Homo sapiens: one gene and its partners. The protein of the gene in region 2 purifies or fractionates together with the protein of the main gene of each other region. This does not show direct contact. Each region holds a gene or a part of one and is shown on either strand. Other genes may lie near its edges.

What was found. The genes of interacting proteins can lie anywhere in the genome.
Region 1: the proteins of F12 (region 2) and ACAD10 purify together in Homo sapiens (affinity purification with mass spectrometry; one large-scale study listed by BioGRID and IntAct). This does not show direct contact.
Region 3: the proteins of F12 (region 2) and NEDD1 purify together in Homo sapiens (affinity purification with mass spectrometry; one large-scale study listed by BioGRID and IntAct). This does not show direct contact.
Region 4: the proteins of F12 (region 2) and ATXN2 purify together in Homo sapiens (affinity purification with mass spectrometry; one large-scale study listed by BioGRID and IntAct). This does not show direct contact.

Annotation. Positions count from the first base shown.
Region 1 is NC_000012.12:111,745,053-111,748,552, reverse strand, and holds part of ACAD10 (acyl-CoA dehydrogenase family member 10), read right to left. Parts: intron 2,410-3,500; coding exon 2,269-2,409; intron 1,505-2,268; coding exon 1,367-1,504; intron 1,259-1,366; coding exon 1,168-1,258; intron 237-1,167; coding exon 78-236; intron 1-77.
Region 2 is NC_000005.10:177,406,765-177,411,056, forward strand, and holds the start of F12 (coagulation factor XII preproprotein), read right to left. Parts: upstream 2,801-4,292; 5' UTR 2,764-2,800; coding exon 2,707-2,763; intron 2,340-2,706; coding exon 2,282-2,339; intron 1-2,281. UniProt on the Homo sapiens protein: Factor XII is a serum glycoprotein that participates in the initiation of blood coagulation, fibrinolysis, and the generation of bradykinin and angiotensin.
Region 3 is NC_000012.12:96,945,257-96,948,756, reverse strand, and holds part of NEDD1 (protein NEDD1), read right to left. Parts: intron 3,065-3,500; coding exon 2,908-3,064; intron 1-2,907. UniProt on the Homo sapiens protein: Required for mitosis progression. Promotes the nucleation of microtubules from the spindle.
Region 4 is NC_000012.12:111,515,816-111,519,315, reverse strand, and holds part of ATXN2 (ataxin-2), read left to right. Parts: intron 1-888; coding exon 889-1,067; intron 1,068-2,952; coding exon 2,953-3,162; intron 3,163-3,500. UniProt on the Homo sapiens protein: Involved in EGFR trafficking, acting as negative regulator of endocytic EGFR internalization at the plasma membrane.

The DNA of each region.
Region 1 (3,500 bases), on a different chromosome or scaffold from region 2:
AAGAGCAGGGGCCCCTCAGTGGTGTTTCCTGGGGACCAGACCCACACCCAGGGGTGACCCGCCCCTGGAGGTCTCACCTGGTGCATCTTCCAGTCCATACACCGTCAGAGGCCGGATGATTTTTATCCCTGGGGTATCCATGGGAACCAAGAGCACAGACTGCTGCCGGTGTCTTGGTGCATGTGGGTCTGTTTTTCCCATAAACACACAGAGTTGGCAACGAGGATCCAGGATGCCTGCCAGGAAAGGAGAGAGACAGACCCCATCATCTGACACCAGGGCCATCAAATCTCTACACACGTGGTCCTGGCCCAAGAAAGGCACAGTAAGGAAGCAGACAGAGCTCTTTAAGGCTCCATGTAATCAGATGAGCATCTGCAGACTGCTGACCAGAAATAAGAGCAAATTGGGTTTTGTCCCAGTGAGGAATGAATCCAACATCATAAGAGCAAGTTTTTAAAAGCATCACATAGAGTAGAAAATATAATTTAGAGACAAGAGGATGAAAACCGCTACTTGATCCCTGCCAGCTGGCTCGGCTCCCACAGGTGGTGCACACATAACGGCTCTGGGCCCGGGCCTTGGAATCAGGTGAACCTTTGACTCTGGGTTCTCTACTTGCTGGCTGGGGGCTCATACCCCAGGCAAGGGACCTAAGTCTGAGTGCGGTTTCCTCCTTTGCAAAATGGGGATGCTCATTCTTAATGTCCAGGGAGGTATGGGCTCCGGGAGGTAAGCTCCACGGCTACTTGTAGGGGCCCTGCAAAAGTAACACTGGACAATCCCTAAAAGTCAGGATTGTCATTAGCCCTTAGGATGTAACACACCTGATCGAGGAGCCAGGAAGCCACCAAGGAAGGGGAGCTGCCCAAAGCAGAATGAACAGCAGGAAGTGGAGAGATTCCTGGGGTCACATGTGCAGGGAGGCATCCGTCCATGTGTGGGCACCGGGGGACGTCCCTGCCCTGTGAAGTGCCACCTCTGAGAACAGTGTGCTCCACGGATTACCCTCCTATTCTCCCAGCTGCCTCTGCTGGGGGCGCTAAGTGACAGAATCTCCTTTGTGTCAACTTGAAAAAGCAGAGGCTCCTCCCAGGCATTGAGAGACGCGCCTAACAGCACAGACTCCCTGATGTGCATTTGGAAAGTGCATTTTAGGCCAAATACCTGTGATCCACCATTTGTGACCGTTTATGACATAGAAGCTGTCCTCCTCTCTGATGGAAGCCTCAATGTTGGTGGCATCTGAAGAGGCAACCTGAGTGGGGAGCATATTCCAGTCAGAGACGCCAGCAGACAGCCCGTGTTCCCTGTGGGGCCGACAACAACAGGGCCAGGCAAGTGGGTGGCAGCCCAGGCGACGTACCTGGGGCTCGGTCATAGCAAAACAGGAGCGGGCTTTCCCCTCCAGCAGAGGAATCAGCCAGCGAGCCTTCTGCGCTTCGGTGCCATACCTCACCAGCAGCTCCATGTTGCCCGTGTCAGGCGCAGAGCAGTTACATACCTGAGAAGGAAAAGGAGCGTGACCATGACTGTCATGTCCTCTTCTAAAAAAAACAGAGTCAAGCTCTGTCACCCAGGCTGGAGTATCGTGGCACGATCATGGCTCACTGCAGCCTCGACTTCCTCAGCTCAAGCCATCCTCCCATGCCTCAGCTTCCCAAGCAGCTGAGACTACAGGTATGCACCATCACACCCGATTAATTTTTTATTTTTTTGTACATACAGAGTTCTATGTTGCACACGCTGGTGTCGAACTCCTGGCCTCAAGTGATCCCCCACACTTCGGCCTCCAAAAGTACCGGGATTACAGGTGTGAGCCACCATGCCTGGCCTTCTCACATTAATATTTCAAGCTTCAAATTGGATGGGCATGGTGGCTCACGCCTGTAATCCCAGCACTTTGTGGGGCCAGGGTAGGTGGATCACCTGAGGTCAGGAGTTTGAGACCAGTCTGGCCAACATGGTAAAACCCTGTATCTACTAAAAATACAAAAATTAGCCAGGTGTGGTGGCACATGCCTGTAGTCCCAGCTACTTGGGAAGCTGAGGCAGGAGAACCACTTGAACCCAGGAGGCAGGGGTTGCAGTGCGCCAAGATTTCGCCACTACACTCCAGCCTGGGTGACAGAGCGAGACTCCATCTCAAAAAAAAAAAAAAGTTCAAGTTCATGCCAGTGCTTCTGAATCTGGTTTATCTGTTTAGGATTGAGTTCTTATGAAGATCAGGATGTTCCCACACACTGAGGAAAACTTTAAAGAAGGTACCTCGGGGGCATACAGGGACGTGCCCATGAGCTCACACAGATGTGCATATTCCACATTGGTCAGTCCTGCTCCGTATTTTTTCTCGGGATCAGCCTCTAAGGGTAGGAAAAGGTTCCAAAGTCCTTCAGCTTTGGCTTTCTCCTATCATGGGGAAAATAAGTCAGGAAACCACAGTGGAAGATTTCATTTTATTTTGAACCGTGGAAAACAATGAAAGGGATTGGAGGAAACAAGGCAGACAACCAAACATGCACGTGTGCCCAAAAAAATGATATGAGGAGCTGGGCATGGTGGCTGTGCCTGTGGTCCCAGCTACACAGGAGGCTGAAGTGGGAGGATCACATGAGCCCAGGAGGTTGAGACTGCAGTGAGCTATGACCACACCACTGCATTCCACCCTGGGTGACAAAGCGAGACCCTGTCTCAAAAAAAAAAAAAAAAAAAAAAAAGAGAGAGATGGTGGCTCACGCCTGTAATCCCAGCACTTTGGGAGGCCGAGGCGGGCGGATCACAAAGTCAGGAGTTCAAGACCAGCCTGAACAACATGGTGAAACTCCATCTCCATTAAAAATACAAAAATTAGCTGGGCATGGTGGCACGTGCCTATAATCCCAGTTACTCGGGAGGCTGAGGCAGGAGAATCGCTTGAACCTGGGAGGCGGAAGTTGCACAGAGCAAGACTCCGTCTCAAAAAAAAAGAGAAAAAAAGAAAAGTAGATGATGATTGCATTATGCTCCTGAAGATCTCAAGTAATTTCAAAACTAACACAATCCAAGGTTCACGTGATAAGGAACAGCGGGTGTTTCTGTTTATCAGCTGAAGTGACAGCACTGGGAGACAACACAGAAACTCAGCTCACAGTGGATCTGGCCCTCTAGCTGTGATATTACGGGTTCTCTAGAGAGAGATTTATTAGCTGATACAGCACTGTTTCAAATTTACATAATTCAAATACCCATCAGATAGGCCTAACCTGCCCTGGCTTTCTAAGGCCAAGCATTCCACTGCCTGGGCTGTGCAGTCACACCTGAGCCATCTGCCTGTGACACAGGCACAGCAAGAGCAAGAGATGGAAACTGAGTCATGAAGAGCTGGCTCTTTCTGAGACGATGGAAGCAAAGATCATTCAACTCGGAGCTCCTGTATCTTCACTGCCTGGGATGGTTCAGGTGAGCCCGGTGGGGTCGGGGAGGGTATGCCATGGTATTGGGGTCTTACCACCTCACCATGG
Region 2 (4,292 bases):
TGCTGAATTTTATTTGTAACTCCCAAGTCAATACTTGAAATGTTTTCATGGCCATTTGTGGGCATGCACAGAGCAGTGAAAAATTTGCACATTCCCAGTTAAGGTTCAACAAGGCGTCACGCTGCTGCTGCTTGTTTCAGCTCTCCTATTGAATGAGTGTCCTTCTCAGTCTACTTAGTGCAACGTTTTTCACACTTTGTGCTTTTGCTGGGGATTTGGCTTTTGGAAATGGCCTCTGAGCCTCCTGCTGAAGAGCTGTGTAGTTCCTAAGCACAAGAAGGCTACCTTAGGGAGAAAGCGTGTGTTAGACACTTGATTCAGGTGTGTGCTATAGTGCCATCAGCTTAGCATTGATGAATCAGCAACACATATACTAAATAAAATGTCTTTAAACAGAATCATACATAAAACCAGATTATATGCTGTTGGTTGATGAAAATGTTGTGACCAGAGGCTCACAGGAACCTAATACTGTTTGCTAGTTCAATGTTCACTGTGATTTTATAGAACATAACCATCGCGAATAATGAGAATTGCCTGTGTCTTCTTCAGAGGAATTGTCGTGGGGCTTCATGAGATAATGCCATGAAATGCTGAGCAGTGTCTGGCACAAAGTACCTGCTCAATAAGCTTTTGCCACTATTTTGTTCAAGGCAAAGTGCACTTGCCAAGGACCAAACCAGAACTAGGACAGTAAATGGAAATGGATCTGAGATGGACCTTTAAGATGCAAATGGGGGCCAGGCGCGGTGGCTCACGCCTGTAATCCCAGCACTTTGGGAGGCTAAGGTGGGCGGACCACCTGAGGGCAGGAGTTCGAGACCAGCCTGGCCAACATGGTGAAACCCTGTCTCTACTAAAAAATACAAAAATTAGCTGAGCATGAAGTTGTGTGCCTGTAATCCCAGCAACTCGGGAGGCTGAGGCAGAGAATCGCTTGAACCCAGGAGGCGGAGGTTGCAATGAGCCAAGATCGCGCCATTGCACTCTAGCCTAGGGGACAGAGCGAGACTCCATCTCAAAAAAAAAAAAAGATGCAGATGGGATGGACGGACAGAGAGGAGGGGGACCTTAGGCAGGGGATTAGGCAAGGATAGGGCACCAAGTTTGGGTAAGGCAAGAGAGAGGAGAAACTTTTGGGTGTGGGGTGAAGAGAGGAGGCTGAGGGAGTCCAGGGTTGGAATGTGCTGGGCCTCAACGCCATGCTTAGAGACTCAACCCCACCAAGTCAGGCCCACCAGGGTAAGGTCCATCTGGTTCACAGGCCCTGCTATGTGCCACACTCTAGGTAAATTTTTTTTTTTTTTTTGAGACGGAGTCTTGCTGTGTTGCCCAAGCTGGAGTGCAATGGTGTGATCTTCGTTCACTGCAACCTTCACCTCCCAGGTTCAAGCAATTCTTCTGCCTCAGCCTCCCGAGTAGCTGGGACTACTGGCGCATGCCACCATGCCTGGCTAATTTTTGTACTTTTAGTAGAGACAGCATTTCACCATGTTGGCCAGGCTGGTCTCGAACTCCTGACCTCATGATCCACCGACCTTGGCCTCCCAAAGTGCTGGGATTACAGGCATGAGCCACCATGCCTGGCATGTAGGTAATTTAGTGTCTGGAAGAATGAAAGCAATGGGGAGCTATGGCAGAGCTTGAGGAAGGGGGAAATGGCAGGTACCCTTCATCTAAAAGGTAGTTTCATAATAAAAGCTAATATTTGTAAAGCATTTCCATGCACCAGGTGATGGGCTGAATACCTCACATGGGTTTCCCTTCTCAACAACCCTAAGAGGTTTACTGTTATCAACCTGGTTTCACAGAAGGGGAAATTGAAGCTTGGAGAACTCAAATCCCTCGCCCAGAGTCACCCAGCTCATAAGTGATAAAGCTGGGCTTCAGAGGCATTCAGATGCCAGAGACAAGCTCTTGATCCTTCCTTGCCCATTGAAGGCCCTGGCCTCTGTGTGGCATGAATGATGCCCATGAGACGTACTGGGGAAAGGAAAAGAAGGGGAGAAGCTGGGGAAACTGAGGAAGGCTGGCAGGAGCCCAGGTGTGATGGCGCCAGCAGCACATATCTCAAGCACCTGCTCCGAGCCAGGCTCGTGGGCACTTAGACACAGCCCATACCCTGCCCTCAAGGATCACACAGCTCACGATCACTCTAGTGCCCATGGGCATAAGACCTAGCACCAGGTAGGCACTAGACTAGACTGCCCTGAGACTGCACACACTGCACCATACACATCCCCACCCAAGGGTTCCCGGGAGGAGGAGCCAGGCCACTTACCGACTGTGTGCTCTTCAGCTTTGTACTTATGCTCCTTGGGGGCTTCCCAAGGTGGAATCTACAAGGGAGAGAAGAAGGCAGGGAACTGACTATAAGTCATAGCCTGCCACCGATCTGTTGCTAGTCTGCAGCTTCCTCTCACAGCCCAGAAATGCAGAGATTTCTTCCCAAGACCCAAACCCTTTCTACCTCCCCCCGTTGTCTTCTTAAGGCCCATCTCCCCCAGAAATGCAGGCTGTGCCCTTGTATCCACCCAGTCTGGTTGTCTGTCTCCTCTGCCTGGGCCTTCCGGGCTGGCCTCACCTTTCCACATAGGCCTCCTAGTCACCTGGACCCACAGGTCATGAGCAGAGGCCATGGCTCATGGCTGTGATAGCGACCCCCCAGAACAATCCTGGGACAATCCTGGTTCCCACAGCACTCACCGAAAGTGTTGACTCCAAGCTCACCAGCAGGAACCCCAGGAGCAGCAGAGCCCTCATGGCATCCGTCCGTTGGTCCAGCTGCCTATCCAGGAGTCCAGATCAATAGGACTGGCCAAAGGTCTTGGAAATAGAGATTGGTCAAGCTGCCCTCCTGAGCCTGGTGGGGCACAGGCTGTTTGTGGAAAGCCAAGTGGAGCAACTTCCTTGGTCACCCCTTGAGGGCCGGAAAGTTGGGAGTTTGTGGGTGGGGGTGAAATGAAGAGCTGGGCTCCTCCTCTCTTTTCTAGATAGTGGGACTGGAAGCAGAAGAAGGGACATTCTTATGCTCTGGGTCCTGTGGAGATCAGGAGGTTAAGGAGATCAAAGATCATGGGGATCTTGGAGTCCACTGTGAAGTGTGTTCATTTTCTATTGTCATGTAACAAACTACCATAAACTCAGCATCTTACAACAATACCCACTTTTAATTTTCTTTTTTTTTTTTTTTTTTTTGAGACGGAGTCTCGCTCTGTCGCCCAGGCTGGAGTGCAGTGGCGCAATCTCCGCTCACTGCAAGCTCCGCCTCCCGGGTTCACGCCATTCTCCTGCCTCAGCCTCCCGAGTAGCTGGGACTACAGGAGCCCACCACCACGCCCAGCTAATTTTTTGTCTTTTTAGTAGAGACGGGGTTTCACCATGTTAGCCAGGATGGTCTCGATCTCCTGACCTCGTGATCCACCCGCCTCGGCCTCCCAAAGTGCTGGGATTACAGGCCTGAGCCACTGCACCGGGCCATGTGTCGCCTTTTAAGAACTCACCTGACTAGGTCAGGCCCACCAAAGCCATTCTCCTTTTTTTTTTTTTTTTTGAGACAGAGTCTGGCTCTGTCACCCAGGCTGGAGTGCAGTGGCACGATCTTGGCTCACTGCAAGCTACGCCTCCCGGGTTCACGCCATTCTCCTGCCTCAGCCTCCTGGGTAGCTGGGAATACAGGCACCCGCCACCACGCCCAGCTAATTTTTTGTATTTTTAGTAGAGATGGGGTTTCACTGTGTTAGCCAGGATGGTCTCGATCTCCTGACCTCGTGATCTGCCCGCCTTGGCCTCCCAAAGTGCTGGGATTACAGGTATGAGCCACCATGCCTGGCCCTGCCATTCTCCTTATTTTAAGGTCAAACAATTTGGGACTTAAATTACATGTGCAAAATTCTTTCACAGAAGCATCTACATTCATGTTTGACAGAATAACTGGGAGGTGTGCAAACACCAGGGGTAGAGATCTTGGGGCCATCTTAGCATTCTACCAACCACAGGAAGTGAGGCAAGAAAGCAAATGATTTAATGAGAAAAGTGCTAAACCAAGGGGCACTAAGATGTGCAGCTGGAACATGAGAAGAAGACGGGGTGCACATGTGCTGCCCAGCATCTGTCCTGGTTCGGTAATGACACTTTGATTTTTCCTTTAGCAACGACTCCTCTCTTACTTCTTCCATGGGCTCTAGTGCTGCCAACTCTACCCTCAGAGCTAGGGCTAGAGATGTGGCCTAGGTCTGGTCAATCAGAGCATGACATCTCTAATCCACAGTGATTGGTTCAGAGATAAGCAT
Region 3 (3,500 bases), on a different chromosome or scaffold from region 2:
TAAAGGCAAACTGGAAACAAACTAGTGCTAAGAAAACCTGAACCTAGTAACCAAAGGATCAAAGGGATCTGCTTGCCAAAAGAAACTTAAATCTTCTTAATAGACAACAGAAACAGATGCACAGATTTCCACTTAGGATGTATTAGGTTGGTGCAAAAGTATAATTTCTCAACTCTAATAACGAAAACAAACCTGATAACCTATAAAATCATATTATTTTAAATTCAACCGAGAGCTGAGAATGGAAAGAAATCTAAATGAACTAAAATCCAGAAAATGAGGAGTTCCTCTTAGGAGAAAAGAGACCCATGACTAGGAGAAAAGAGACCCATCTTCATGCCCTTGACAGAGTAAAAAGAACTAGCTGAAATTTTAATAAGATTTTTAAAAGCCAAGTAAACACTGCTTGATAGTTTAGAATTCCAAGGGGTCCCAGCCACAAGGAGAGTCTCAATTTACTCACCAACTTTTTCCCACAAGCCTTCATTCAGCGCTCATGTAAAAAAAGTAGGGACAAGTGTAACAGGAGGGCTGAGGGAGACTCCCTAAGATACAGATGCACAGAGCCTGGTGAAACCTTAGGGCAGCAGAGAAGAACTGAGAGTAACCCCTCTAAGGCACTCCAGGCTCTCATGGAGAAGATGGCAGCCACGGGAGGATGGCTGAGAAAGAGGTCCTCAATACCCTCTCTGTCCTGCCAATGATAGGTGTAGATGAACACCTAGTCTGATGAACACCTAGGCAAATGGCAAAACAAGTGAATTTATGGAAATCCTCTGAGCCACTCTGGGTCTTCACTGCGTCCCAGGCAGAGGCTGCCTATGGTCAAAGGGCAGAAGAGCTGAGAGAAGTCCCTACCCACCACTCCTAGGTGCAGACATGCAGCACAGGGCAGCAAAACCAAGAGGCACTGACTGTACGTCTTCACCAAACGTGCTGCAGCAGCTCTGCAGGGCTGAAAGTGGGACAGACACACTTCTCCTGAGGCACAGAAAGCCAGGAACAGGTTAGATAGTGAAAAACAAGCTCCAGCCACCCCGAAAGCTGGCAGCAGGGCAGAAATGCACAGCGATTTCAGAGTTGCTCCAGCACTCAGATCCCTGGGTCTGCTGAAGGAAAGGCCCTGAGCCCACTGTCCTCAAATCATCTGAAGCCAGTGGTGAACTGACACCCAAATGCTTGTTGAATAAATGGGTAATAAATAGACAGCACCCATTACTCCTGTGCTTAAAAACTCTGATGGCTCTCCATTACCTGTGTGTTAAGACCTTCACAACTGTCCCTCAGGCCTGGTCTCTTACCACGGTGCCTTCTCTCTGCAAACATTCCTAGAATGTATGATCATGTCTCTGCTCAAGCTGTTCCCACACACATCAGTATAAAATAAAATCTCTTCAGTGTACCTTTCTAAATCTGCCCCCACAGAAGAACTGCTCCCTTTCTGTGATTTCAACATCACTTTGCTCACACTGTATTATAGTCAGCTGTATCCAGACAGTTCTACTATTATGCCATAAATATTTATGCACTCCTGAAAAAAACGTATATTCTTTAACACTGTGTATTAAAAATAACAGAACTTAGGGAAAAAGGATTAGGGCAAAGCACTCAAAAACCTATGCAACTTTGTAACCAGAGCACAACAAAAACAATTAAATCCTAATAAAAATACTAACATAGTTAAAAAGACATAGTAAAAATCTAATAGATAATTATTGAATAATACCCTTACTGTGAAGAAGTGATGGTCACTTAATGGAAGAGGATAGAAGGATTGCGGCTATCAAGTTACAGAGGCAAGAGCAAAATGCCCAAAGATGGGAAATAATCACAAAATAAGTACTTCTAACAGACCACACAGCCAAGCCAAGAGGAAGTGAATAAAAAGAGATGGATGCTGACGGGGTTTGCTGCATTCAGCTGTGTTCAGGTGTACTTTATTTTGGCTGCTATTACACGAACAAACAAAATTTCCTCATCATATTGTCAACAGTGTTCTATTCTACTGATCCCAAATGAATTAATTCACATTAAGAGAAACACACATGGCAGAACACACTGCACCTAGCCCAACTACATCACAAGGCCTTTGTGGCAGATCATTTGATGTATCCTTAGTATCTGGTACATATACTAGGTAGGGTAAATGCCAAAATTACAATTTTTCTTTAAAAAGTATTTTTCGACATTTAAAAATATATTTTAAAAGTATTTTAAAACATTAAAAGGAAGCATGCACCAACAAAAACTGCACATTTTCTCCAACATTCTTGCTTACGGTAATCCAAATCTGAGCTACAACATTAACTATAGGTTAGAAAGGAAAAAAGGCACCAATGATTTTAATAATTGAAGATAGCTTCCAAAAATATTGAGATGATAAAAGAAAGCAGCATTGTAGAACACATTCTTAGAATGTTCACAATTCGAAGGATGAGACAGACAAGGATAAGTCTGAGAAAGAATTTTTTTTAGATTAAGTATTACATTCTGATGCATTCTATTGGAAAACATTCAGAATTGTGCTTTAAAGTATCTTTTTCTACTACATTATTGCACACAGCATACCTAATAGATCTATGAACATACTGCAGGTTAAGAACCCAATTTAAGCTTACCAGAACTTGTCCACATTTTAATAATAAAAAAAGTTCACAATGGCAGTCTACCTGCTAGACTGCCCTGCTGAGTTACCTAATAATTGCCCTAGGTAAATGTGCCTTTTCCTGGCTCATAATCAATAAATGCAGTACGAAAAGATCAACAAAACTCATTATGTTTTCTATGGCTTTAGGATTACCAGAACCTAGACAATAGTAACCAACAACATTATCTATAGTTCTGGTTTTACATCTAAAAAAAAAACAAGTAAGGTCTAGATAGAAGGAGTAGTTTCTCAATTACTACCTAAAGTCATCCAACGTTTCCTGTATCATGTTCTGAATAAAACGAATTTGAATGGAAGTCAATGGTGCATTTTGCCGGTTATTTCCAATGCTGTCGGCTATTTTTTCTGAGAGTGAACTGGCAACTCCAGCAGTGACAGAAGATGCTATCTTTGGATCTAAAATAAAGAATGAAGAAAATATTAATAGTCAACTTGGACTGAGAGACATCAAACATTTCTAAATAAGATTTGGCATGTGCAAACTTGAAAAACTGGCAAAGAAGAGTGTTCCTGTGACATTTAGAAAAATTCACTGTCTGGAATACAAATCTTAGAAACTTTCTATAACATTATTTCTAATAGTCATTTATCTATATATATAAACTGCCAGCTGTCTAATGTAATACCACATGACAGAGGGATTAATCTTGAAGAATCTATGAACCATTTCCTCTTATAAAAGATGAATGTGACAAGCTGCACCATAAACTAGATAAACCAAGACTATTAAAAACAAACCGAAGGAAAATAGGAGTAAAGTACTGCTACAGGAAAAGCCTTAGAGTTTAAGCTAATGCAATATATATCCACAGAAAACTTCAAGCAAAATATA
Region 4 (3,500 bases), on a different chromosome or scaffold from region 2:
GTGCAGCAGTGGCAGTTGATAGTAGGAACTGAGGTCATTAAAGGACTTGGCATGTCATGCTAAAGAGCACCCTGTTGGAAGGAGATGGGGTGAATAAACCCTGGGGCATTGAGGACTGGCTGAGACACAGAGAACAGTTAGTGCACTGAAATAGTTCAACTGTGAGAATTTGGTAACCACCTAGTTAAGGGATGAGCCTGAGGTTTATTTGATAACTAAGTGACTTAATGGATGTACTGGTAAGAGAGAGAGGAAACATGGAGCAAGTTTGAGGGGAAAAACAGTGACTCCGTTTGTGCAGCTAATTGCATATGTGGGCTTGTGGGTCTTTCATTTATTCATAAACGTGTTGAGAAATACCTGCTACCTATCTAGTAAAGTAAGAGATGCATCCTCTCTTAAAGGCAGTCAGCTTAGAGTCTGGTGATTTGAATTGACATGTCCACTGATAGATGTTGACACTGTGAGACTGGCGGTTCAGTTTGAGGTTTCATCAGCATTGCCGATATTGGAGCCATGAAAAACCAAAGAACAGCCAGTGAGAGAAGAGATCTCAGAGAAAATAAAATTGAGAAAGTGAAGGACAAAAAATGTTGTGAAGATAGACCAAGATTGATGGAATCAGCCATAGAGAGGTCAAGTGGGATGAGAATGAGCACGCATCTGTTAAACTTTGTGCTTAGGAGCAGAATCTAAGGGAAGGGACAGTCCAGAGGTTAGAACTCAGGGTAAGATGGAAGAACAGGGGCATCTGGGAGTGAGGCAGTTTGGTTTAGTGTAGAACCTTTTTGTAACAAGCATTCCCTTCTGTCTAGATGACTTTTAGATATGTTTCATTGGCTTGGTACCTTTTAGAATAAAATGATTTAGAGGATCTCTCATTTTCAGGGAAAATAAATATATTCCTCCTGGACAAAGAAATAGAGAAGTCATATCCTGGGGAAGTGGGAGACAGAATTCACCGCGTATGGGCCAGCCTGGATCGGGCTCCATGCCATCAAGATCCACTTCTCACACTTCAGATTTCAACCCGAATTCTGGTTCAGACCAAAGAGTAGTTAATGGAGGCAAGTATTTTGACCAGACTTGTCAATATCATTGATAAAATAGTTTTCTAAATACTTAAAATACTTAAAATAGTTTACATAACTGATATGAATGTGCACTTTAATGATTTGGTGAGTAGCTTTCACTTCAGCATTACTTAAAATTGGCTTTTGTGGATATTAAATTAGTAAAACATTGTATATGTCATTGACATATATATTATTTAGCATGATGAAATATTCATGATGTACTAAGATAAAGTGCTACATTTAACCCAAGACAATCACTTGGCCAAAAACACTTCACATATAAAGAAATTGGAAACTTTGGGTAGGTTCTCAATTTTAAAAACACTGGATAATAAAATTTTTTAGACATAATTTATATGGAAAATTCTAACCTATGTGCAACACTGTGGTTAATATAGATCAATTTTCATTATTTGTTTCTATATTATGCTTACTTCAAGAAAGGATCTGAGGTAACTTATAATACAAGACATGATCAAGAGTCATGTGAAGAAAGTGACTAGAGAAATTTGCTTAAAAAACAACAAAAACAACCCTTAGTCTAAGGGTGGATGTTACAGTTTAGCAACTTAAGTAAAAGAAACCTGAATCTTTAGTAGGAAGACATTTTTTACTCTACCTCTAAATCTAGGTTGAATATATCTTGTAGGTTGTGGATCTTTTCCATAAATCAGGGATACTGAACAACAGTTCTATGGATGGTATGGAAATAGTAATAGCAATAGTATGTTACTAACTTTGTGGGAAAAGAGTGGACATTCAATTTTAGCTATTTAAATTTGGAAAGTTAGATGAAAATAGAGAACACTAAGTTTCCAATTTCATTTGTTTTCATTGAGTCTTTTCTCCAGAATTCCTCTCCAAATGGACACTCTTGAGTATTTTCAGTACTTAATATTGGGGGTGAAATTTCTTTGCTCACTGAGGAAAGATTTTAGTTGTTTATAAACAGAATTTTAAAGTTAAAAAACCTGAAGGGGGCTGAGAAATATATGATACTTAAGTGTGTGGAACCCTATGGAGAGGAGACCTGGACTGTTTGATAAGATTAAGGTAAGTGATATGTAATGTTAAATACTAGCTGTATCTTTACCTAGGCATATCCATCAGTATAAATTTATTTGGTGATGACTGCTTTGTAGTTGCAGTATTTATTAAGCAGTCGCTTAGATAAGTGTTTAACTGTATAAATTATTTAGAAGGTCTCCCTTTTTCTAGTTTAATGAGGTCAAGACTTTTTTTTTGAAATAGCAATGAATATTATCATTTGATACTCACAGGAGTCACAAACTCTAGAAGAGTAATGTTTTATTTCTACTTAAATGGGACTTGCTTAATAAGATTCCAAACTGAGTTCTGGGTTCAAGTGTAAACCTGATGAAAATCATAGATAATTGTAAGGAACCAGCATTTCTAATTGGATATAATAGCTACTGCTTATTTTCGTTATGCCTCAGAGTTAAAACTAATACAGTAAATAATCTTACTCCTGAGTAGGAATTATTGTGATTTATTATGTGAAATTATCTAGTGTATGTTATATTCCTTTAAACAACCAGTTACTGAGAAACAGTTATAGAAGCAGGATTAATAGGCAAAGTCTTAACTGTCTTCTTCAATAGTGTGTATAGATCCTAATTAACCCTTTGGGAACGTGTATTCATTTAAACAGACTTAATCTTAAGGAGGTTAAAGTAAAATGTGAATTTATGTCAGTTAAGTTATGCTAAAACTTATCACAAATCAAATGACTGTCCTCAAAGGGTTAAAATGTACAAGAAATCATTTTTGTCATTTTACTTTTTTTCTGTTTACTTTTTTCCCTCATTTTTTTCTTTAGTTTTTATACTTTCCTTCATATCATTTGTTCTGTCAGGTGTTCCCTGGCCATCGCCTTGCCCATCTCCTTCCTCTCGCCCACCTTCTCGCTACCAGTCAGGTCCCAACTCTCTTCCACCTCGGGCAGCCACCCCTACACGGCCGCCCTCCAGGCCCCCCTCGCGGCCATCCAGACCCCCGTCTCACCCCTCTGCTCATGGTTCTCCAGCTCCTGTCTCTACTATGCCTAAACGCATGTCTTCAGAAGGTACAATACCACAATTTGTTCATGTTTTTGTTTGTCTTTGTTTAACTCCTATGTGAGTTTATAATTACAAAATAGTTTCCTCTTCATTATTTAATAACCTATAATTTCTGTGTTTTAACTTTAGTTTATTAAAACTATTTCTATTAACCTTTTGTTCATTAGAGAGAAATTTGATAAATGTGTGAAGCTATAAACTCTCTTGAATTGTTGTTAAAAAGGGGGTTTATCTCTGCCTGATAATTATGCTTCTTTACAGCCCCAGAAGGGTCTGCCCCACAGCCTTCCCCCTCCTTATTTGCACTGTATACAGTAGTTAAACAAATGAACTTTCTTCAGCC